Regions from separate parts of the Homo sapiens genome. Here regions 2 and 3 are each linked to region 1. The links come from fine-mapping of genetic effects on gene expression. A gene starts in region 1. Each other region holds a variant in brackets. All regions are shown on one strand. Distances are between the middles of the regions.

Evidence for each region.
Region 2: its variant is fine-mapped to the expression of CTPS1 in whole blood (INTERVAL, PIP above 0.99).
Region 3: its variant is fine-mapped to the expression of CTPS1 in whole blood (TOPMed, PIP above 0.99).

Annotation. Positions count from the first base shown.
Region 1 is chr1:40,976,327-40,984,519 of GRCh38, reverse strand. CTPS1 (CTP synthase 1) reads right to left here and starts at 4,824. Exons shown (of 19, transcript NM_001905.4): 1 at 4,691-4,824; 2 at 1,064-1,242. The coding sequence starts at 1,229. RefSeq lists an enhancer at 3,826-3,875 and silencers at 4,076-4,215, 4,286-4,575, 4,846-5,035.
Region 2 is chr1:40,951,766-40,959,958 of GRCh38, reverse strand. No RefSeq gene overlaps it. Among named protein-coding and RNA genes, the nearest start is that of CTPS1, 24 kb to the left of the region's middle. The variant TTTTTTG/G (reference allele first, on the strand shown) is at 3,627.
Region 3 is chr1:41,153,778-41,161,970 of GRCh38, reverse strand. It overlaps SCMH1 (Scm polycomb group protein homolog 1), which reads left to right. Exons shown (of 16, transcript NM_001394311.1): 3 at 539-607; 4 at 1,073-1,096. Among named protein-coding and RNA genes, the nearest start is that of SCMH1, 84 kb to the left of the region's middle. RefSeq lists a silencer at 5,143-5,332. The variant C/G (reference allele first, on the strand shown) is at 3,915.

The DNA.
Region 1 (8,193 bases):
TACAGCATCTGCTGCTTAGGGAAAAAGAACCTTCAGAAACGTCTCCTAATTGAGCATAATATGGTTTAAAGTATGATAACAATATTTGATTCAAAACCTGGATATATGCATATTAAGCTTGTGCTGATTATAAAAATCAGCTTCCGAGCTCTGCTTTTGTTCTAAACAACTTTGTGAAACTGCACATATTTACCCCATTCTTTTGTTGCACATTCATTCCATGAAACTTCACTCTAGAAATTTTGCCCAGAATGATTCATTCCTACCATCACAATAGGAGACAAGCTCAAACACAGGAAAGGAAAAAAAGTCTCATTTTCTCCCTCAGAGAGATAACTCATCCTCTGCTCAAGAATTCTGTATTAAATATCACTCAGGTATATGGATCTTTTCCTGATGCCATTTGTTACGAGGATTTCTGCACTAGTGACATTTAATGCTTGCATATTTTCACCTCAACGCTAGAGAGTAGGAGTACGAATGCAGAATTTTAAAACTTAAGAGGTATGTTTTAACATCTCTCCCAGTTTTAAGCAATTAATCTTTGAAGTAACAGCCACAGCTGTATGTCACACCATTGACAGGTTCTCAATAACAACAAAGAAGTAAAAGGCAGTCGGGCATGGTGGCTCACACCTATAAAACCCAGCACTTTGGGATTACAGGTGGGAGGACCCAAGACCAGCCTGGACAACACAGTGGAACCCCACCTGTACAAAAAATTTAGAAATTAGCCAGGCATGGTGATTTACACCTGTAGTCCCAGCTACTCAGGAGGCTGAGGTGAGAGGATCGCTTGAGCCAAGGAGGTGGAAGCTGCAGCGAGCCATGATCACACCACTACACTCCAGCCTGAGGGACAGAGTGGGATCCTGTCTCAAAGAAAAAAAAAAAAAAAAAGAATTCTGCTTCTTCCTTTCTAGGTGAGAAAAGTATCATTCTGCTGTATTAAGGGACCTGTTAGAAGGCAGAAAATAAAAGTTATGCAAACCGTGCACATAATTCCCAAGTGCTGACATGTTCTGCCACATGCAATTATTATGAAGAAATCCACTGTGCTTACCATGCTCATAAGGAGAGAATGTTCCTGCATCAATGTTAATGTAGGGGTCAATTTTGATTGAAGTTACATGTAAACCACATGACTTGAGTATTGTGCCCACACTGCTGGCAATGATTCCTTTTCCAATTCCTGATATAACACCACCAGTAACCAGAATGTACTTCATTTTACTCTTTGACCTGGAAGAAGGAAAAATTACAGATGATATAAATGTATCTCAACAAACCAAACTCATCTGGGTTCAAACACTGGCTCTGCCAATTATTAGCTATGAACCCTCTTGAAGCCTCAGTTTCTCTGTCACAGGACTTCAGAAGGTTCTCGTCAGGTTTAAATAGGATCAAAACAAACATTTCTTGGATCACTGAATGGCTTTAGTCAAATACGTGTAGAAAAACAACTGCTACTCTAATAACACAGCTTTTGTTTAAAGCTTTGACAACTAATAACCTTCAGAGTCAACCTAATAAAACCAGCTCTAAGCTGGCTGATAGAACACTACACCCCAAATGTTTGCTGACATCACTGCCAGACACTGGGATACCAGGCAGGTGCCTCATTATTTTCCCTACATGGGAAAAAAATTCAAACTTGGATAAGTACTCCAGTTCTCCAGGAAATAAATAATGTCTTTGGCTAAACTACAACATATCATCAAGAAAACACAGCTCCTCTAGGTTACAAAAGATAGACTAAAAGGAAAGAACATCAACATTTAAAAGTGGTTGCAGCTAAACCAAAATTCCTTTAATTAAAAGTAGTTCTCTGGCTGGGCATGGTGGCTCATGCCTGTAATCCCAGCACTTTGGGAGGCAGAGCCAGGAGGATCACTTGAGGTCAGGAGTTCGAGACCAGCCTGGCCAATATGGGGAAACCGCATCTCTACTAAAAATACAAAAATTAGCCGGCTGTGATGGCGCACGCCTGTAGTCCCAGTTACTCAGGAGACTGAGGCAGGAGAATCGCTTGAACCCAGGAGACAGAGGTTGCAGTGAGCTGGGATCATGCCACTGCACTCCAGCGTGCGCGACAGAATAAGACTACCTCAAAAAAAAAGAAAAAGTAGTTCTCTTCTATAATTTAACAACAACTTGCTCCTTGTCAGAAATCTCTCCCAGGCATGCAATGAAGAGAGACTGTAAATACTGGGGGAGAGGGACATCAGATAAGAAACCAGTCTGAAGCACATGACGGGCAGAGGACTCAAAGAGAGGGGAGATGAGATTAAATCCAAAAAGCAGTGCCACGGTGGCAGGGAAAGGAGAAATAAGATATAAGGGCAGCAGAGTCAAGATGCAGGTGAAAACAGCATCGACAAGAGGTGAGGAGACCGTGACAGGCTCACCACGGAGGATTTATCACTGGTCCCCAGCTTCAGAGGTCCAGGATCGTCCATTTGGTCAGCAAACCCAAATGTGACCAAAATGAAAAACACAATTAGAAAGTAGCAGAAAATGCTTACTTTGGCATGGTCAGGACATTTTCCTCCTCAGGAACGTTCCATGTGAAGCCAAATTATGATAAAAATAAACTAAGGAACAAGAAAACTAAGGAGTTGTGCTCGAAGCATTCCCCCGCCCCACCCCCTCCCCAGAGCAAGAAAGAACACACTTGGCAGGGAAGGAAGAATGCTCAGAAGTCTTCCCCGCTCCAAAGGCTCTTTGCATCCTCTGCTGCAGCATTTCCAAAAGCATGCTCCCTGGTTTCAACAAAATGCACATGGGATTCTCAAAAAGGGTGTTATGGATATAAATCAGAGAAACGCTGATTAAACCAAGTCATTTAACGCAAGAATCCTGGGAGTGTTTAGCAAGTAAACTCGCACTGTGATCACTGCTATACAGTATGCGGTGTCTCCAAGCTTATCTGACCCTAAGTCTCTCACTTTACAGTTCCTTATTGACACATGAAAATCAGTCTTAGGTACATTTTAGATATGTTCTAACCAGACATATACCTTACTGAGACTATACCCTGGTCTCCCTAAGTTTTGGATGATCCTAGAAATTCCTCTGCCACCGAGTGAGTTACTTCTACAAAAGATTCATCTCATCCAATTACATTTGATTTGTCCCAATTTTACTCTAAGAGTTTAACATCTCTCTTTACGTTCTTTAGTTTCTCTCTTTAGATTCTTGCAGTCTCAGTGCCTGGCAATACATATGCCAGTGTACATAAAGATCAGGCGGGAGGCTCATTCATTCATCCTTATGGGCTACTGACTTACATGACAGCTACTGTGCTTGGGGACTGCAAACATTAATCAGATTTGGGCCCATATCTCAACTTTCTGGCAGTCCAGTTGGAGAGATGAAACATTAACAAATAAATGAGTAATTCAGTGACGGTGGAAGCAGACAGAAAACATGTTTAGACTATAAAGGGGGACGATGAGAGCAGACGCTTTCAGTACCATGGCCATCAGAGGAAGGTGAGACAAGTCCTGGGGGTAGTGGGCGGATCCAGGCGGCTCCTGTTTTGTAGATATGACTTGCAATGGGCCTTGAAGGACTGACTGCACGACTCAGAGCACAGGAAAGGGAACAGGGTGAACAGGCAGGTGCAGGGCAGCTACAGAGAACAGAGGTAAGGCCGTGAGGGGGAAGGCGGGGAAGCAGGGATATACAGTGGAAGATAAACTGGAAAGGTAGGCAAGGGCCAGATCATGTGCAAACTGGCATGCCCAATCTGAACTTAATCCTGAAGGTGACGGAAGGCGCAAGAAGGTTTTCCGGCACAGAAGTAACGTAAATCAAGACGCATCAGAGAAATTCAACAAAGACTGAGGGGGGAAATGCTTTTTCTTTCAATGTTATGAGATGAAGTGCCAGCCCCCATCACTAGTGTGCAGACCTCAATCATGTCACTTGAGCTGCCTGCAACGCGGGTTCTCACCTAGGGGAATGGGGGTGAGAATCTCTGCGCCGCCCGCGTCACAGGGCCGCTGAGGATTCGAAACTGTAACGAGCGTGGACGGAAGGGCGCCACGCAAACGTGGTGAGCTCTATACACCGCCAGCGCCCCGACCCCCGGCCGCCGGGAAGGGAGGAAGCCGTGAGGCCCAAAGGCCAGCCGCGGGGCCCAGGGCCGGCGAGTTCGCAGGCCCCCTCGTCCTACGGCGCGGAGCTGCCGCGCCCAGCCCCGGGCGGCTGAGCCCGCGCCGAGGCCGGAGGCCCGAGGCCCGCACTGCTTGAATGGATGGGCGACTGCCGGGCTTCCTCGCAGACGAAGAGCAAGGGCGGAGGGTGTGGGGGGGGGCGCCGCTCCACTCCCCTACGGCCTTCTCCGTCCGACGAGCCCGGCCGAGCTGATTCGGCGCGGCCCAGCGCGGCAGCGCAGGCCCCGCAGCCTCTGAAGCCGCCCCGCGCCCCGCTTGGCCCCTCTCCCCAGCGCCGCCCGGCCACGAGGCCCGCGCGCGGGAGCCGGCAGCTCGCCGGCCGGGGCGCCCGCCCCACTCCCGTTAGGCACACAGCCCATTGGGCAGGACGCCGAGTCACCTCGCCCCTGATTGGTAGGAGCGACGTCCGTCACCGCGGCGGCGGGGCTATTCGGCGCCGGGCTCAGCTCGCGCCGCTGACTCCTGCGCGGGAGAACAGATCCCCCCCGGGATCCCTGGAGTCAGCCTACCTGCGGCCGGCTTCAGATCCTCCCGTCAGCGACAGAGCTGGGCCGGCGACGCGCGCGGAGCCCCGGACAGCCAGTGAACAACCCCGACCGCATGCGCCCGGCAGTCTTTCACGGAGGCGGGCTCTAGGCTGTGCGCACGCAGAGGTTGGAGGGCGGGCCGGGCCTGGAGGGCGCGGGGCGGGGCGGGGCCTGGAGTGCGCAGGCGCGGGACAGGACCGCTGGGCCGCCTCCGCTGAACTGTGCCGCCGTAGGTTCGAGGCCGGGCGGGTGGTGGCGTGTCTGCCCCTCTGCTTCCGTCCCAGCCTGTGGCCCAAGCTTACTCTCTTGAAGGGGAGGAGGCTGTTTGGGAACTCACGCCTGGCCTATTCGTCACCTGGCCTCGCGTCCTCCCACAGCGGTCTCCTGGAGTTCTGGGCGTCGCCTTCCATCCGATGGTCTTTCACTGTGGGCTCCTGGCGGTGATGCGCCAGCGCATCTCTGCCTCCGGGCGAGGGACGGCGGCAGCGCCACCCTGGCCTCCAAGACGGAAGTGCGGAGGGTCGCGCGGCGTTGGCTCCTCGTCGGCCTCCCTCCTCCCCACACCTGCCCCGAAGGCGGCTGCTTTGGATGGACTAGGATCCCGAAAAGTACGGTTTCATCTAGCTATCGCTCCCTGAGCACCGACTGTGCCACGCACTGTGCTGGGCACCGAGGGACCCTCTCCTCGGACTAACGATGTAGGGAGGCACACTGAGCAGCTCATTACACTTTATGGTTGTTATGGGTGCTTGCTGCAGAGATGCTGGTGCCGGGGCAGTGAGTGCCCAGCGCGGGGACTGACCCAAGTCCGGTGGTGATTGGGAATTCAGGCGGGAAGCCCGCCCTGAAAAAGTAACTTTGAAGCAGAGACCTAAGTAGACGGCAAAGATGGGAAAGGGAGAGGCGGGGATAAGAAAGTGAGACATGCTTGAGCCCAACAGTTCGAGACCAACTTGGGTAACATAGCGAGACCCCGTTTCTTATAAAAATAATAATAGTAGGCCGGGCGCAGTGGCTCACACCTGTAATCCCAACATTTTGGGAGGCCGAGGCAGGCGGATCACAAGGTCAGGAGTTCAAGACCAGCCTCGCCAATATGGTGAAACCCCGTCTCTACTAAAAATACAAAAATTAGCTGGGCGTGGTGGTGGGTGCCTGTAGTCCCAGCTACTCAGGAGGCTGAGGCAGGAGAATAGCTTGAACCTGGGAGGTGGAGGTTGCAGTGAGCCAAGATTGCACCACTGCATTCCAGCCTGGGCGACAGAGCGAGACTCCTTCTCAAAGAATAAATAAATAAAATAAAAATAGTAATAATAATTTTTTTTTAAAAGTGAGGCAGAAGGAAAAGCCTGTGTACAAGCCCAAAGAGGCCGGCACAGCTGAATTGGAAGGCCAGTCTAGCCAAGTCCACAAGGGCCACAGGAAGCGAGATTAACATGAGATTAGGTTGAAGAGTTGGGTAGGGCCATACGGTGAAGAGCATTATAGACCAAGTAAAGGCTTCTCTTTCTCCTAGGGATAGTGGAAAGCTGTAGAAACTTTTGAGAGGCTTTTGACCTTCCTTTGAATAGTGAATATATGTACATGGTTATAATTTTTCCCCAAACACTACACAAGGGTATCCATGAAAAGTAAATCTCTTATTTCTGTACCCCAGTGTTCCTGTTTTGTTCTCTAGAAGCAGTCTGCCACAAGTTCTTAACTATCTTCACTGAAGGAGTTTTAAAAAAAAAGATGTGATGGGATCAGATTTGTGTTTTAGGAAAATCATTGAAGCAGATGGATTCCCAGAAACCAGGTCAGGAGGCTCCTGCAGTGGCCTCTTTTAGAGGCTTCTGGCTCCTTCCAGATCTGGATCACCAGTGCTTCAACCCTGACAACCTGCCCATGCTGCATTCAGCTCCAAATCTAAAAAATGTTTGGAATGCCAGGCATAGTGGCTCACACTTGTGATCCTGACACTTTGGGAGGCTGACACAGGGTGGGAGGATTTCTTGAGTCCAGGAGTTCAAGACCAGCCTAGGCAATATAGTGAGACCCCATCTCTACAAAAAATACAAAAATTAGCTGAGCATGGTGGCACGCATCTGTAGTCCTGGCTACTCCAGAGCCTGAGGCTGGAGGAATGCTTGAACCCAGGAATTCAAGGCCAATGGGAGCTAGGATCCCACCACTGCACTCCAGCCTGGGCAGAGTGAGACTCTATCTCAAAAAAAAAAAAAAAAAGTTTGGGTTGTCTTTGAAGGTACTCTACAGCCACATCTTCTTTCAAGAAGCATTTGATGTTTATCAAAGTGCCTGGAACATAACAGATGCTGAGAACATACTTGCTGAGGTAATGAAGATGCTATGGGAGATGGAAAAATGAGCCATTCACCCAACCACTCCTCTGAATGACCACTTGACATTGTCTTCTTCCTCAAAGCTCTTCCATCTCCTCCCCCATATTCTCCTCAGCTGGTGGTCTTGCTTCCCATTTCACGAGAAAATAGAAGCCATCAGTAGATTTTTCATATCCACCAACCACTTTTATCTGCGCACAAGCTCTGCGTTGTCTCCTGTTACTGTGGACAAACTGCCCACACTCCCAGAGGTCAACCTCCTCTTTGCTCCAAGTGCCATATCCATTTGTCAACTCAAAGAATGTCTAGTATGCAAGTGCCATATCCTTTCATCAACTCAAGAATGTCTAGTAGAATGTCCCTTCCTGCGTCATCAGTCTTTCCCTGTCTAGTAGATCTTTTCCACTACCGTGATGCAAACATGCTGCAATTTGTTCCATCTTAAAACCCCTCTCCTGACTCTATGCCATTCTCTAGCTCCCCCTCCATTTCTGTTTCACTTTTCAGCACAACTCCTAAAAAATGTTGTTTGTACTTTGCTGTCTCAATTTCTTCCCTCTCTTGAACTCATTCCAATCTGGATATTTTGCTCATATAATTTCACTGAAACTGATCTCGTCAAAAATTAACCTCCATGTTCTCAGACCTCTTCTTTGTACATCAGCCTAGACTCCAATCTCTAATGTCCGTAAGTCCCAAATAAAGACAACAGTGGGCTGGGCGCAGTGGCTCATGCCTGTAATCCCAGCACTTCGGGAGCCTGAGATGGGTGGATCACAAGGTCAGGAGTTCGAGACCAGTTTGCAAATATGGTGAAACCCCGTCTCTACTAAAAATACAAAACTTAGCCAGACGTGGTGGCAGGCGCCTGTAGTCCCAGCTACTCAGGAGGCTGAGGCAGGAGAATCACTTGAACCTGGGAGGCGGAGGTTGCAGTGAGCCAAGATTGCACCACTGCACTTCAGCCTGGGCGACGAGCGAGACTCCGTCTCAAAAAAAAAAAAAAATAGACAACAGTGTGGCTGTATGTGCATGGCATGAATGCATATGTGTGTGTGCACGTGCGCATGTGTATGTATTTACATATTTGGGCTGCTTCTCTCCCCCACCATAGGCCCAGTCTCCTTTTGGGCTCCTAGGTGC
Region 2 (8,193 bases), 25 kb after region 1:
CACAAGGTTGAAAACATACAGGGCTGAGAGGCTTGGATTTAATTCACCATTTTTGATCACATCATCTATTGTGGATTTCAGATCTTTAAGGAAACCTTTATATTCAATAGCATGTCTGTGAATAAAAGAATGTGTGGTGAGGTTTGGGCTTCTGGTTAAATTTTTTAAAAAAAGAATGTATTGCGGCTGGGCGCAGTGGCTCACGCCTGTAATACCAGCACTTTGGGAGGCCAAGGCGGGCAGATCATCTGAGGTCAGGAGTTTGAGACCAGCCTGGCCAACATGGTGAAAACCCGTGTCACGCGCGTCTGTGTGAAGACAGTCCACCAACAGGCTTTGTGTGAGCAACAGGGCTGTTTATTTCACCTGGGTGCAGGCAGACTGAGTCTGAAAAAAGAGTCAGCAAAGAGTGGTGGGATTATCATTAGTTCTTATAAGTTTGGGATAGGCAGTGGAGTTAGGAGCAATTTTTTGTGGTCAGGGGGTGGATCTCACAAAGTATATTCTCAAGGGCGGGGAGAATATTACAAAGTACCTTCTTAAGGGCGGAGGAATATCACAAAGTGCATTAGGAGGATGTGTTGTCATAAAGTCAATCGATCAGTTAGGGTGGGGCAGGAACAGATCACAATGGTGGAATGTCATCTTTTGTGGTTCCTCAGTTGCTTCAGGCCATCTGGATGTATACGTGCAGGTCACAGGGGATATGATGGCTTAGCTTGGGCTCAGAGGCCTGACACCCGGTATCTACTAAAATACAAAAATTAGTCAGGGTGGTGGCGCGCGCCTGCAATCCAAGCTACTCAGGAGGCTGAGGCAGGAGAACTGCTTGAGCCTGGGAGGTGGAGGTTGCAGTGAGCTGAGATGACACCACTGCACTCCAGCCTGGGCGACAGAGCAAGACTCCGTCTCAAAAAGAAAAAAAATGTATTGCTTGAATCTCAGGATTTTTTGGAACGATCTTGTGAAACCTTGATACCTTGTTGTGGTAGCCACCTGCTGCAAACACAGACTCATCCATTGTGGACACAGATCTTAGTCTATTCAAAATGCTCATTTAGGCCAGGCGCAGCAGCTCACACCTGCAATCCCAACACTTTGTGAGGCCGAGGCAGGAGGATTGCTTGAGGCCAGGAGTTTGAAACCAGCCTAGGCAACATAGCAAGACCACATCTCTATGTTATAGATTTTTTTTTTTTTTTGGCTAAAAAAAAAAGTATCAGATTCAAATAGAGACAATTTCAATCCTTCCGCAAGGTGACTTAACTTCTTCACTCATAACCACTAATCTGGCTTTTATCACTGTGGGTTGGATTTGCCTGTTCTAGGACTTTGCACCAATGGAATCATATAGTACATACTCTTTTTTTTTTGGCTTTTTTCTCTCAGTATCATGTTGGAGAAATCCATCTTTGTTGTTGCTTATGGCTAAAGTTTATTTCTTTTTATTGTTAAATAGTATTCCATTGTATGGATATACCACAATTTCTTTATTCATTCACCTGTTGAACATTTGGGCTGTTTCTAGTTTGGGGCTGTAATGAATAAAGCTGCTACACACATGCTTGCACATGTCTTTTTGTGGGCATATGCACCTGTTGCTATTGAATGAATAGTTAGAACTGGAAACATTGGGTCAGAGTAGGTATATGTTAACTTTAGAAACCTTTTTTTTTTTTTGAAACAGGGTCTCATTCCCATTGCCCAGGCTGGAGTGCAGTGGTGCAATCACAGCTCACTGCAGCCCCCACTTTCCAGGCTGAAATGATCTTCCCGCCTCAGCCTCCTGAGGAGCTGGGACTACAGGTGTGCACCACCACACCTGGCTAATTTTTGTATTTTTTGGTGGAGACAGGGTTTCATCATGTTGCCCAGGCTAGTCTCCAGCTCCTAGGCTCAAGTGATCTGCCCACCTCGGCCTCCCAAAGTGCTGGGATTACAGGCGTGAGCCCCCACACCCAGACCATTTTTTCTTTTCTTTTTTTTTTTTTTTTGAGACGGAGTCTCGCTCTTTTGCCCAGGCTGGACTGCAGTGGCGCTATCTTGGCTCACTGCAAGCTCCGCCTCCCGGGTTCACGCCATTCTCCTGCCTCAACCTCCCGAGTAGCTGGGACTACAGGCGCCCGCTACCACGCCCGGCTAATTTTTTTTTGTATTTTTAGTAGAGACGGGGTTTCACCGTATTAGCCAGGATGGTCTCGACCTCCTGACCTCGTGATCCACCCGCCTCGGCCTCCCAAAGTGCTGGGATTACAGGCGTGAGCCACCGCGCCCGGCCCCATTTTTTCATTTTTAAAAGCAAACAATAACTCATCCTGAAATTCCATCAAGAATCAAACTGTAGGCGTCCAGGCGCGGTGGTTCACACCTGTAATCCCAGCACTTTGAGAGGCCGAGGCAGGCAGATCACTTGAGGTCAGAAGTTCGAGACCAGCCTGGTCAACATGGCCAAACTCTGACTCTACTAAAAATACAAAAATTAGCTGGGCATTGTGGTGCATGCCTGTAATTCCAGCTACTTGAGAGGCTGTGGCAGGAGAATCACTTGAACCCGGGAGGTGGAAGCTGCAGTGAGCTGAGATCATGCCACTGCACTCCAGCCTGGGTGACAGAGCCAGACTCCATCTCAAAAAAAATAAAAAAATAAAAAACAAACTGTATTCATTGTTAACATTAAAAATGAACAGACACTCCCCCAATCAAGAAACAGCAATTGAGAAAATTAACAACATAACTCATTTTCTTTTCTTTCTTTCTTTTTTTTTTTTTGAGACAGAGTCTTGCTCTGTTGCCCAGGCTGGAGTGCAGTGGTGTGATCTTGGCTCACTGCAACCTCCACCTCCTGGGTTCAAGCAATTTTCCTGCCTCAGCCTCCTAAGTAGCTGGGACTACATGTGTGTGCTACCATGCCCTGCTAATATTTGTATTTTTAGTAGAGATGTGGTTTCACCGTGTTGGGCAGGCTGGTCTCAAACACCTGACCTCGTGATTTGCCTGCCTCGGCCTCCCAAAGTGCTGGGATTACAGGCGTGCACCACCATGCCCTGCCCAAAATAACTCATTTTCTATAGGGAAACACATAACATTAAATAATAATATCCATACTTTTATGTTAGAAAAATAAGAGAAAATTATTAAGTTAAAGAAAAGCCAATATTTTATATGTACTTGCAAAATAAAGAAGAATTTATCAGTTGCAGCTGATAAACAGATAAACAAATCATGACTAGGATCATAGTCAGACTATTCTGTGGAGTGTGGGACAATGTGGCCATGACAAAGTCTTTCTGGCGGCAAGTGCTTTGAATAAAATCTTAACCACCAAAATAATTATTACCTAATTCAGGAAGTTCATAGAGGAAGCTATCTAACAGTGTTCAAATATGTTTTGGCTCTTGTCAAATTTTGAGTAGTTGAATAGGTCAACATGCTTGTGGCTCATTTATGGCATGCCAGTTAGAAAGCTCAGTCCTAACTAATAGAAATAGGGTTTCCAAGACAAAATATGTTATGTGGTCAAATAATTTTGGAGAATTCCATGCTAAAGTTAAAATGCACATTGCATGCTGCAGGAATTCTCAGAACCCTTAAGATGCCAGTGCCCGCTGTGATTTTTTTTTTTTTTT[TTTTTTG/G]GCCTTCAAATGGAAGTGGGCAAGGCACAGAAACATGTAGTTTCACGTAAACACAAATGCACAAAAAACATATAAAAATACTCAACCTCACTCATAACTCATATTCACAATAAAACAAGATAGGCCGGGTGTGGTGGCTTATGCCTGTAATCCCAGCACTTTGGGAGGCCGAGGCGGGTGGTGACACCTGAGGTCAGGAGTTTGAGACCAGCCTGACCAACATGGTGAAACCCCGTCTCTACTGAAAATACAACAATTAGCCGGGCGTGGTGGCGCGCGCCTGTAATCCCAGCTATTTGAGAGGCTGAGGCAGGAGAATGGCTTGAACCCGGGAGGCGGAGGTTGCAGTGAGCCGAGATCGCGCCATTGCACTCCAGCCGGGGCAACAGAGTGAGACGCCGTCTCAAAACAACAAAAACCGAAAGAAAACAAGATAGGATTTGTCACGTGGAAGATTGGCAAACTGGAAAAAGCTTTATAACGTCCAGCGCATTTGAGTGGGAACAAGTGCTCTCACAGAATGTAGGAGGCTGTGTAGATCTATAACTCTTTGGAGGAAGTATTGGTTAGGGATGATGCCCACTGGCATGTAACAGAAAGCCAGACTTCATCGAATAGGGATTTGTTAACTTTCAAAAAAAGATATTAAGTCTAGAGACAGGCGTCCCAGGCTAGTGCAGCCTCTCTGCAACATCACCAGGGTCTCAGGCCCCTCCACCATGCTTAGTACAAAGCTTTTACTCTCACATTTGCCTCACTGTGACCTCATGGTTACAAGATGACTGCTTTACCCCCAGCCTCGGGTTCACATTCCAGGCAAAAAGAAGGGAGTGGCAAGGAAGAAAATGTGGTGCCTCTATCAGGAAATGAATGCTTTCTTAGGTGCCTCCAGCTGACTTTTATCGACATTTGAGTATGTGGAACTGGCCGCCCCTAGATGCAAGGAGAGCTGTGGATTTTTTAGCTCAGCACATTGCCTATTTGAGTGAAATCAGATATTGATTTACCTGATCTGGCCTCAGCTGACTATCTCTTCTCTTACGATTCTACTCTGACTTCTGTTCTTCTACCTCACTGACTTTCACAGGTACTGTTAGCATTTTACCCAGATCCTTTTAAGATCCCCTTTTCCTTCATGTTGTGTGTGCCCCCAACTTTGCTAAGCTTTTTCTCTTAACATTTAGTACTTAGTACCCAACACCTAGTACCTAGTACCTATGGCTCTTTGGATAGGGCGCTACTGGAGCCCACTTTGCCCAGAGGAAGTGCCTGAGAATTTACTTGAAAAAGCTCCCTGGGATGACCCTAGCCAGATGTTAATGGGAGGAGAGTTTGAAAGTCTCAGCAACCTTGCCTTAGGTTGGAACAAACACTGAGGTGTAACTTATATGCCAGAGCTCCCCTTCCTACCCGACTCTACCTTACCCCACCCCGCCCCACCCCCGTGGGATCAGGGTGAGACTACCTTCCTCCGGATTTCGCATGAAATCACACGCTTGCTTGGCTTCCTCCTCTTCCCTGCCCTGCTTCCCCTACACCCTTGCTGGTTATTCCCCACCCTACCCCTAAGGGAGCACTAATCAATCACTTATACAGGAATCCTCTCAGAGTCTGCTTCCAGATCGCCTGACCTAAAACACCAGCCAACTTGCAGTTTCTAGAGCATGCTAAGCACGTTCCTATCACAGGGACTTTGCACGCTGCAGGAATACCTCCCCCCAGACACATGCACGGTTCACATCTGCACTTTGTTTGTGTCTTTGCTCAAATGCCACCTTATCAGTGAGTATTTTCTTTTTTCCTTTTTTTTTTTAGACGAGTCTCGATTTGTCGCCCAGGCTAGATTGCAGTGACCCTATCTTGGTTCACTGCAACCTCCACCTCCGGGATTCATGTGATTCTCCTGCCTCAGCCTCCTGAGTAGCTGGGATTACAGGTGTGTGCCACCATGCCCAGCTTATTTGTGTATTTTTAGTAGAGAAAGGGTTTCACCATGTTGCCCAGGCTGGTCTCGAACTCTTGACCTCATGATCCACCCGCGTCGGCCTCCCAGAGTGCTGGGATAACAGGTGTGAGCCACTGCGCCCGGCCATCAGTGAGTATTTTCTTAACCACACTGCCTGAAATAGAACCACTCCATCAACTTCTATCCTTTACCCTGCTTAATTTCTCTATGCAATTTAGCACAGCTTGGCTTAACAGTATTTAATACACAGTATTTTGTTTATTGTCATTCTCTCCTACCATAATATAAGCTCAGAGGCCAGGAACTTCGTCTTGTTTTATTCTCCTCTGTATCCCCTGCACTGGAATTGATTAATGCCTGCCAGAAGAAAGGCCTTGTCCGGGTGTGGTGGCTCATGCGTATAATCCCAGCACTTTGGGAGGCCGAGGTAGACGGATCACCTGAGGTCAGGAGTTCGAGACCAGCCTGACCAACATAGAGAAACCCCGTCTCTATTAAAAATACAAAATTAGCCAGGCATGGTGGCACATGCCTGTAATCCCAGCTACTCGGGAGGCTGAGGCAGGAGAATCGCTTGAACCCTGGAGGCAGAGGTTGCAGTGAGCTGAGATCATGCAATTGCACTCCAGCCTGGGCTTGAAACTCCATCAAAAAAAAAAAAAAAAAGAAGAGGCTGGGCGCGGTGGCTCACGCCTGTAATCCCAGCACTTTGGGAGGCCGAGGCAGGTGGATCACGAGGTCAGGAGATCGAGACCATCCTGGCTAACACGGTGAAACCCCGTCTCTACTAAAAATACAAAAAAAAAAAAAAAATTAGCCGGGCGTGGTGGTGGGTGCCTGTAGTCCCAGCTGCTGGGGAGGCTGAGGCAGGAGAATGGCATGAACCCAGGAGGCGGAGCTTGCAGTGAGCCGAGATAGCGCCATTGCACTCCAGCCTGGGCGACAGAGCGAGACTCCGTCTCAAAAAAAAAAAAGAAGAAGAAGAAGAAAGGCCTCAAGTATATTTGCTGGTTGAATAAATGATTGAATATCTAAGGATCTATGCAGACTTAGGTAGTAGACAGTGGGTTTTAGCTTTGAAGAGGGAAAACAGCTTTGTAGATTCCAGCATTTATTGATACACCAAAGCTGAGTCAGGAGCCCGAAGGAGCTCATGGTCTCAAGGAGGACCCAGACCCCACTCCGCAGTGGCCTGTGCACTAGGCTATACAGACACAATGGAAGAAACAATCGCTTCTGCCTGGGAGAATCCAGGAAGGCTTCACAGAAGAGGCCACATTTGACATTAAAAAGGATCAGTTTCTCTGGAGGAGAAGGTGGGGTTGCAGTCCTGTTAGGAATAGCTTGTAAGAAGGCATAAAGTCCATGACCTGCCTGGTGTGGACAAATTAAAGAGTGCCTGAGGAGAGCCACAGGATACTGAAGGACAGAAAGCAACAGAGTCACCAGAGGACAGCCAAGGACCTTGAATGCTGAGGTTTGTCCAGAAGGCAGTGGAGAGCCAAGTGCGGGGCTTAAGCTGGGAGAAGGGCAAAGGCGAGTAGGGTCAGAGCTGGATTTTAGCAAGTTACTCCTGGTGGTGACATGGACGAGGCTGAGAGGGGAAAACCAGGGGCTGGGAGGTCGGTTGGGGTCTGCCTTGATGTCACCTAATTTCAGCTCCAGGTGCAGAGCTGAGATGTTGGCACCAGAGGGCGCTCTGACCCAGAGCACGGGCCTCCTGCCATTCCCGTTCTGCTCCCGCTGGGCACTCACCTGGCGCTCTCGGAGACAGTTCGCACCTCCAGCCGGGGCCCGACCTGTGTGCTCAGCACACAGGCCTTGGGAAATCTTCTACATTACGTCTTGTTATTTGACTTTGTCTTTCCATGTAATGGCTGAGACTGTGAGGTGCTGCTGGAGGTGCAGTGGGGGAACAAATAGGCAAGATCCCTGCTGTCCTAGACCATGTGGTCTAAGCCAGCGGTTCTCAAAGTGTGTTCCCCGGGTCAGGAGGCCTGGCATCTCCTGTGAATGAGCAGACGCACAGATTCTCGGGACCCACTGCAGACCTGCTGAATCAGACACTCTGGGGCCCGTGGCCAGCAATCTCTGTTCTAACAAGCCCCTCTGGTGATTCTGATGGTGTCAAGGGTGAGAGTTGCTGGTCTAAGAAAACACTGCACACTATAGCAAGTTCCTTCAAAGGACTGATCCAGCAAGCTGCGGAAAGGCACTGACTCAAGGGAGCCAAGGGCCAAGCATAGAAGGCTTCCTGGAGGCAGTGTCTAGGAGTCAACTAGATAAAAAAGGGAGAGAAAGTCATTCCAAAAAGACAGAACAGGCTGGGTGCAGTGGCTCACACCTGTAATCCCAGCACTTTGGAAGGCCAAGGTGGGAGGATGGCTTGAACCCAGAAGTTTGAGACCAGACTGGGCAACATGGCAAGTCCCTGACTCTTAAAAAACAAATTTTTTTTTTAATTAGCCTGGCATGGTGGCTGGCGCCTGTGGTCCCAGCTACTCTGGAGGCTAAGTTGGGAGGATTGCTTGAGCTCAGGAAGTTGAGGCTACAGTGAATCATATTCTCGCCACTGCACTCCAACCTGGGCTAACA
Region 3 (8,193 bases), 180 kb before region 1:
CTGCTGCAGCCGGCATGATGACAGCAGCTGCTCCAGATGGCCCACCGCTGCCATCACAAATACAGTTACATTCTGCGGTACTGCGGAGTGGGGACCTTAGCATGAAGTTTTGGAGGATACAGTTGAGCCCATAACTGGGGTGCTGTTTGTTTTTAGTGTTTTAAATAATTGTGATCATTCCATGAATATAATTTTTATCCCCATATTTTACCTAATAACATAACATAACCATTTTCCCATTTGTTCTTTAGCCTTTTAAAAATTTAACAGCTTCAAAATACTTTGTCAAGTGTTTGTATTATCAAATCTTAATCAGTCTTCTATTTTGAACATTTAGGTGTTCCTTTTTTTGTTATTGTAAACAATGCCAAGGCTTTTTACATAAAACCTTTTTCTTGTATTTTGGAGTATTTTTCCTTAGCATAGAATCTCGGAAGTGGATTACTTTATTAAAAACTGTTAATACATACTGCCAAATTGGAAAAGTATTTAATCTTATACTTTCTTTCCACATGACTATTTTTCTCTCCCTCTGCAGTGATAGACTGGAGTGATGTTAGAAAACACAAATATGGTCACCTATCAGAGTCTGCATCCCAATATCAAGGTAAGGGGGAAAAAACTCCGTTTGGTGTGGAAAAATTTTACTCGGCATCTTTTCCCATAAAACCTTCGTTGTTAGAGGTCTGAGTTTACAAATAACTCAATTGTTATATCAGAAGCAAATATTGCAGTTTACAGAGGTATTGGTCATAAGCAATATACTTTGTTTTAGCTGGAAATAGGAAACCTAGATTCTGAGTATAGGTAATCCCAAATTAGCTTCATAGTTTTAGGCACGGTTGCTTAGCCTCTCTGGGTTTTCTATAGTTTGTATAAGTTTAGGCTTGGGAATAGGCAAAATTGGGTGGTGTGCTTCCACAATGACTACTAAGAATCTCAGTGTCTTTTAGGATGAGATAACTGAACTAGACAAATACTCGATTTCCTATTTTACCCCAGAATTTCACCTTCCATCATGTTGGTATGTTTGTCTTAATGACTTATGCTCCAACATTTTTTTCTTTACTAGAAGCTGCTGACATCCTGGATCTAGGTAAGCTATTTTTCTTGTGTTTCTGTTAAATAAGGGGAATTGGTAAACCAGGGATTAGATTATAACCAGTTTTAACCAACGAGGAAAAGAATTCCACGTGTCTCTGTCTCAGAAACCAGTGAATCCTGTGCTCTTGTCTGCCTAATTATCCCATGTACTTCATCTCAGCTGTCACATCAAGTCCTGCTTATCAGTAGGCCACAGACCAAGCTAACAAGAAGGGAGGGAAGGTGGTTAATTACATGGGGTATAGGGGAGAACAGGAACTGAACCAAACTGGAAATACCATCTTAATTTACTGAATCCAGAACTAAAACAAACCCCTGCCATCCATAAATCAGTGTTTGGTGGGATTTTTCCCCCAAAAAAATTACTTGTAAGATAAATTGAACTGAAACTAAACCTAAACATTTTCTAACTTTATTGACAAATAAAAACTGAAATATTAAAATATTATCAAGTAAGAAGTCAGACCAATAATTGCATTTGGTTTTCCTCCCTGGTTAGTGTATTTCAGGACTAAGATTTGAGTAATAAAACTAGTTCTAATACTTCTCAATCAGAGTTCCTGCATAAACATCAGTCTTAACATTTTAGAATCCTTTAAAATCCTTTTATATGTTACATAGATTTTGATATCCAGATACCTGTATCAATTTTTGTTCAAGTATTTTGATATATTTTGTTACAACTTGATATTTATTTAGCTCTATTATTATCATTGTCTATTTGCCTCCTCTTGCCTTTCTTTCCTGCAACATATTACTTTCCATTGCCCAGTGACACAGAAGATAACATGAAGTAGTAGAACACTAGACTAGGAGTCAGAACTCCTAGGCTTTTTGAGAGCCAGTTCTGCCACTTAGTAACTTTGTGACTCTGATCCTTAGTTTTCTTATTTGTAAAATGGGGATAATAATCCCATTCTGCCTACTTCACAGGGTTGTAAAGAAGATTACATGAGCTAATGGATGTGAAAACATCTTAAAAACTCTCAAATACTTTTCAACTTTGGAGGATTATTATGATTTTCATTCTGTTCAGCGGCTATACTCAGACTTTACTCTAAAAGTCAAATCTTCTGACATTCTTTGAAGTGAAGCATTCTATGAATGTGAGCTGAAGAAATGAATGAAATGAAATAATGCAGGTAAAGGTGCCTGGCACTTGATAAATGATAGTTATTTTTTATTATTCTTTAAAACTTTCCTCAAGCTTTTTAAGGTACTGATGTGTGGTAGAAAAAACATGGACATAGGAGTCAGACAATTTGAACCAAGGTTCAAATTCCTATTCCCACTTACCAGTTTTGTGACTTCAGGCAAATTACTTAATCTTTCTAAGCCTATTTCCTCATCTTTAAAATGGGAGTAAAACCTACTTTGCAGGTTATAATGAACACAGGAGATAATGGACGTAGTCTGGCATGGTACAGGCAAATGGAAGACAGTGATAGCTGCTGTTGTTTTTGGTTTTGTCGCTAATATGAATGATAATAACAATTGTAGCTCAGTGACAGCTTAAGGCATATTGTAAACTGTTGATGGGGAGTTGTGAAATGTGGGTACTCAATTTAACATAGAGTATATCAGTTACTAAAAGATGTTAAAATTTGAAAGTGTATTTTTCCTAGAGCATTGGTTGCATAGGCATATCCTCTGATGTAAGTTAATCCTGCATATTTCATTTTTACCATCTAGCATAAGGAGCAGCTCCAAATAGCAAACTGAAATAAAATTCAGTAGATCTGTGGAATCTCAAAGTTGGAAAAGACCATAAAATAATCTACCCTTGCCCAGCATTTAAAACTCAACATTTTGAATTTTTTGTAAAATGTCTTATCTTGAACTCCTCAAGTTTTTGAGGACTTAGAACCTCCTCACGTAATTCATTTCATATTTAGACATATTTATTGGTCAAAAATTTGCTCTTTTTGTAATTTCTGTTAGTCATCCCTCTGACTTTCTGGCCATATGAAACAGGGTTAGCCTATTTTTCACTTACTGGCCCTGATTTTTAGAGAGAAGCTCTAGGGACTGCCTTCTCATTGCCACTCTGCCGCTTTCATAGTTGAATCTCACACCTAGATTATTAAAACAGCTTCCTAACTAGTCTTTTTTGCCTCCAGCCCTATCACCCTCCTGCCCATTCTTTACACTACAGCCAGAATGACTTCACCCCAAACGCTTGAAGACTTCCTCTTCTCAGTAATACAGTATATTTGGCTCGCTAATGACTGAACACTGCCTTTATCTGTAACCTTTTTCTAAACTACTTTTTCTGTAAACTCCACCCAGCAGCCATACCAAAAGATCTGCATTTAGAACTGCTTTTTCTCATGTCTGGGCCTTTATAATGCCTTTCTTTCTGTCTGAAACAAACAAAAAGAGTTTCCTTTTTCTTTGACTCCTGCTTATCCTTTTACACTTTAGCTTAGAAGCCTAGAGCTTTCTTTGGTAAGTTTCCACAAGCACTCTGGGTGCTCCTGTAGCACCCTCTGTCTCTCCAGTGTAGCACTTATCACATTATCTTAGTGGTGACTGTTTAGTCTCTGTCCCTCACTAGATTCTCTGTCTGTCACTAGACTGAAGCTCTGTGAGGTTAAGGATGATATTTTGATTACAGTTATATGTCCAGCACTCAGCACAGTGCTTTGACACACACTATAAATATTTGTTGGATGGATGGGGAATGGCTCTGAGACTTCACTTTTTTACTCATGCTAATTGTTCATGTTCCTTCACCTGGTCCTCAGGTGATGTGGTTTTGGGTCTGTTTACCATCACTAGGTAATCATTTAAACTCAGATTTGCTCTCT[C/G]TCAAAGTGTAGTTTTCAGAACTATATCCCAGGTATTATTTTATTAGTCCAAGAAAGAATAGGAATATTACTTGTGTGCTTCTTTTCATTCACTCAGAAACTCATATTGAGCCTCTATTAAATTTCAGGCACTGTGTTAAACAGTAAAGATTTTAAAAATGAATATAAGCCCCCATCCATAAAGAGCTTACATAAATAATTATGGTGATATGATGTGAACAGGATGTTATAGGAGATAGGGAGATGGTAAAATTTGTCCAGCCCTTTTCTGCAAAGCCTTCTGACAGAAAATGTAAAATTTTTGCTGAGCTTTAGTCACTGAGTGTGAGTAACATGGGCAAAGATATGGGACCAAGAAAGCCATGAGTTTTAGGAAACACTAAGGTCCTTTGTAGCTTGAATATTGTGATTCTACATCTGTGAAGCCTCCCAAATCCAGACCTTTCTCATATCAGGATATCTGCCTGGACCTTCGAAAACACCTCTGATTTCTCTGCCTTATCTAAGGCTCTCTTTCTGTTGCCTGAAAGTCTGTGTCTTTTCAGAGGGACCCTGTGGTATAGTGAAAAGAACACTTTCTCTAGATGCTTTATTTCTATTAAGTAAAAATTCTTCTAGTGACTTTTCCTTAATCTACAAAGAACTCCTAGAATCTATGAGAAAACAAAAGAATATCTCAGCAGAAAAATGGCTAAATAAAATACAGACTGGCTGATAAGCCTAAAGAGATCTTTGACTTTATTAGTAATCAAAGAATTGCAAATAAAATTATAATAGTATTTTATTTTTTCACTGATAAGATTTGTCAAAATTATGGAAATTGTTAAAACACAGTTTTAGCAAATATGTGGTAAACACACCTGTGTACTTTCGGTAGGAATAGAAATTGAGTCTGGGCAATATAGTGAGACCTTGTCTCTACTACAAAGAAAAAAATTAGCCAAGCATAGTGGTGCACACCTGTAGTCCCGGCTACTCTGGAGACTGAGCGGGGAGGGTTGCTTGAGTCCAGATCGGGGTTACAGTGAGATATGATTGTGCCACCACACTCCATCCTGGGTATCTGAGTGAGGCTTTGTCTCAAAAAAAAAAAAAAAAAAAAAGTTGGCTTATACTTGTAATCCCAGCACTTTGGGAGTCCGAGGCAGGAAGATGACAAGCCTAGGAGTTTGCAACTAGCCTGGGCACCATAGGGAAACCCTGCCTCTAAGAAGAAAAATCAGTATGTTCTTTCTAGAGGATATTTCAGCAATATATATGTTGTATCAAAATCTAAACTATGCATGCTCTTTGTCCACTAATCCCACCCTTAGGACAAATCCCAAATCTGTGTCTCATGCCTGTAATCCCAGCACTTTGGGAGGCCGAGGCAGTTAGATCACTTGAGCTCAGGAGTTCGAGAACAGCCTGGGCAATTTGGCATAGCCCTGTCTCTACAAAAAATACAAAAATTAGCTAGGAATGGTGGCACACACCTGTAGTCCCAGCTACTAGGGAGGCTGAGATGAGAGGATCGCTTGAGCCCGGGAGGTCAAGGCTGCAATTAGCTGTGTTCACACCACTGTACTCCAGCCTGACACTGACTCAAAGCAAGACCCCGTCTCAAAAAAAATAAAATAAAGACACTTAAATTACCATCAGTGGCGTTTAACAAATATATTGTTATTTAAATTTTGGTACATGGAACACTATTTATACGGTAATAGTGGAGTGGAATTTCTGATCTAAAGATGTTGATTATGCTTAATTGTTTTTAAGAATTTGGGTTCACATTTAGGTTGAACAAAGTAGAGTTCTTGTAAAGGAATGTGGCCAGAACAGTAGCCAGACATGAGTAGCCAGCCTGTCAAATTAGGAGCAGTTGAGGGATTTGGGACATAGAGATTAGATATATCTAGGACCAGTAGAGGTTAGAAGGCAGATGTTGGCTGACTATAAAGAGCGGTCTGTCCATTTGTACTGTTGAGTAATAGCTAAATAGCTAAATAATGAGTGTCCCATGACTGGAAGTATTTCAGCAGAGGCTGGAAGGACCATTCAAATCTCAGCTTTTTTTTTTTTTTTTTTTTTTTGAGACGGAGTCTTACTCTGTCACCTAGGCTAGAGTGCAGTGGTGCGATCTTAGCTCATTGCAACCTCCACCTCCCGGGTTCAAGCAGTTCTCCTGCCTTAGCCTCCCAAGTAGCTGGGATTATAGGTGCCTGCCACCACGCCCAGCTAATTTTTGTATTTCTTTTAGTAGAGACGAGGTTTCATCATGTTGGCCAGGCTGGTCTTGAACTCCTGACCTCAGGTGATCTGCCCGCCTCAGCCTCCCAAAGTGCTGGGATTACAGGAGTGAACTACTGCGCCCGGCCCAAATGTCAACTTTTGTATCACCTTATCAAGATGTCTTTTTTGACTGCCCTGGCTAAAATAGCACACCTTCTTTACCTCTTACTTTTATTTTTTTAAATTTCAAAATAGCCAGGAATTGTATAATTAATCTGGTGTCTCTGTTACCCTCTGGACCAGCTGACGTATTTGTTTGTTTGTTTGTTTGTTTGTTTTTGCTCCATGTGGAGCAAAATATTGTTTGTTTGTTTGTTTGTTTGTTTTTGCTCCATGTGGAGCAAAACATTGTTTGTTTGTTTGTTGTAAGCTCCATGTGGGCAAACTTTGGCTGTATTGTATTTTGCTATATATCACCAGTGCCTAGAACCAGGCTTAACATATACTAGGTATTTAGTAAATATTTGCTGAATGAATGAATATTAGAGAAGGTGATTCATGCATTTAACTAGGTGACCTCTTATGCCCATATTTTATGGGCCAAGGTACTTTAATGCCATTTTTAAGTCTCTTCAGGGCAGGTACCTTTTTTTCTTTTTTAATAATAAATGTAACTATCACGTGGTATGCATCAGAGTTTATAAAAACACTTTTATAAGCATTATTTACTAAATGAGATGGCTTTTTCTCATCTGTAAAGTCTTAGCTTAGACATTTCCTCTGAAGAGTATCTGTCCATGACTTTACTAAGATAGCTCCCAGTCTCTATCACATCACCTCATTTTATTCCCTTCAAGTTCTTTTCACTTACTGCCTTGTTTATTTATTGTTTATGTGTTAGTTGTGTCTCATCATATACCAGCATGTAAATGAGGGCAGGGACCCCTGTCATATTGCCTGGCACATAGAGGATAGTTAATAAGTATCTGTTGAATGAATAATTGAAAACATTCAAATTATACTGTTTGAATATTTTGAATTATAATGTTGGAATAATTGAAAACACTCACATTATATATGTTTAAATTATAAAACATTATACCTATGTTAGTTAATAATATTAATCTTCGTAATAATCTCTGAGCCCAAGGATGAATGAGATTTTCATGTTCTGCAATCTCAAGACAACCTGTACTACCTCGTAAACTTTATCATTATCATAACAGATTATTTGTGTTATGTTTATTAATGTCTCTGTTTATCTCTAGACTGAAAGCTCCATGAATTGAGAAATCATGTCTTACCTTGTTCCCCTAACATTTAACACAGTTCTTTGTACTTGGAGAAGTTTAAATATTTATTGAATGAAGAATCTATATACAATCTTGTAAGACAGATATTGTCTTCATCTTTCACATGAGTAAACTTAGGCTTGGAAGGATTAAGTAATTTACCCAAGATAGTTAGCTGTAGAAACAAGACTTTTACCAACATCTTCAGACTCCCAATATTACATTATTTAAACTACACCAGTAGTAGTTCTTAGTCACAGATGTTAATCCAAATTACCTAGGGAGCCTTGGAAAATACATATTCTCAGGCCACACTTGGAGCCTACTGAATAAGAACTTCTGAAGGTGAGGCCCAGAACTTTGTTTAAAGAAATGAGACTATAAGTATCACTTGAGAGTCAATGATTTATACCAGAGGTCTGGCAAACTACTATTGGGAGGTCAAATCCAGCCCTCTGCCTGTTTGTGTAAATAAAGTTTGAGTGGAACAGCCATGCTAATTTAGGCACACATACTGTCTGTGGCTGCTTTCACACTGGAGTGGTGGAGCTGAGTAGCTATGACATAGACTGTATGGCCTAGAAAGCATAAAATTTTTATTATATTGTCCTTAACAGAAGACTTGCTAACTCTGGATCTATACCTTGGTGCCTGTCCTATTTCTTTTGTGGTTACTTTAGTGCTTGGAGATATGGCAGAATATTATGTCTGGCTTCATCATGGGCATTACAATAGGTGTCCAAACATTCTTACTAAGTCATAAAAATTATCTTATT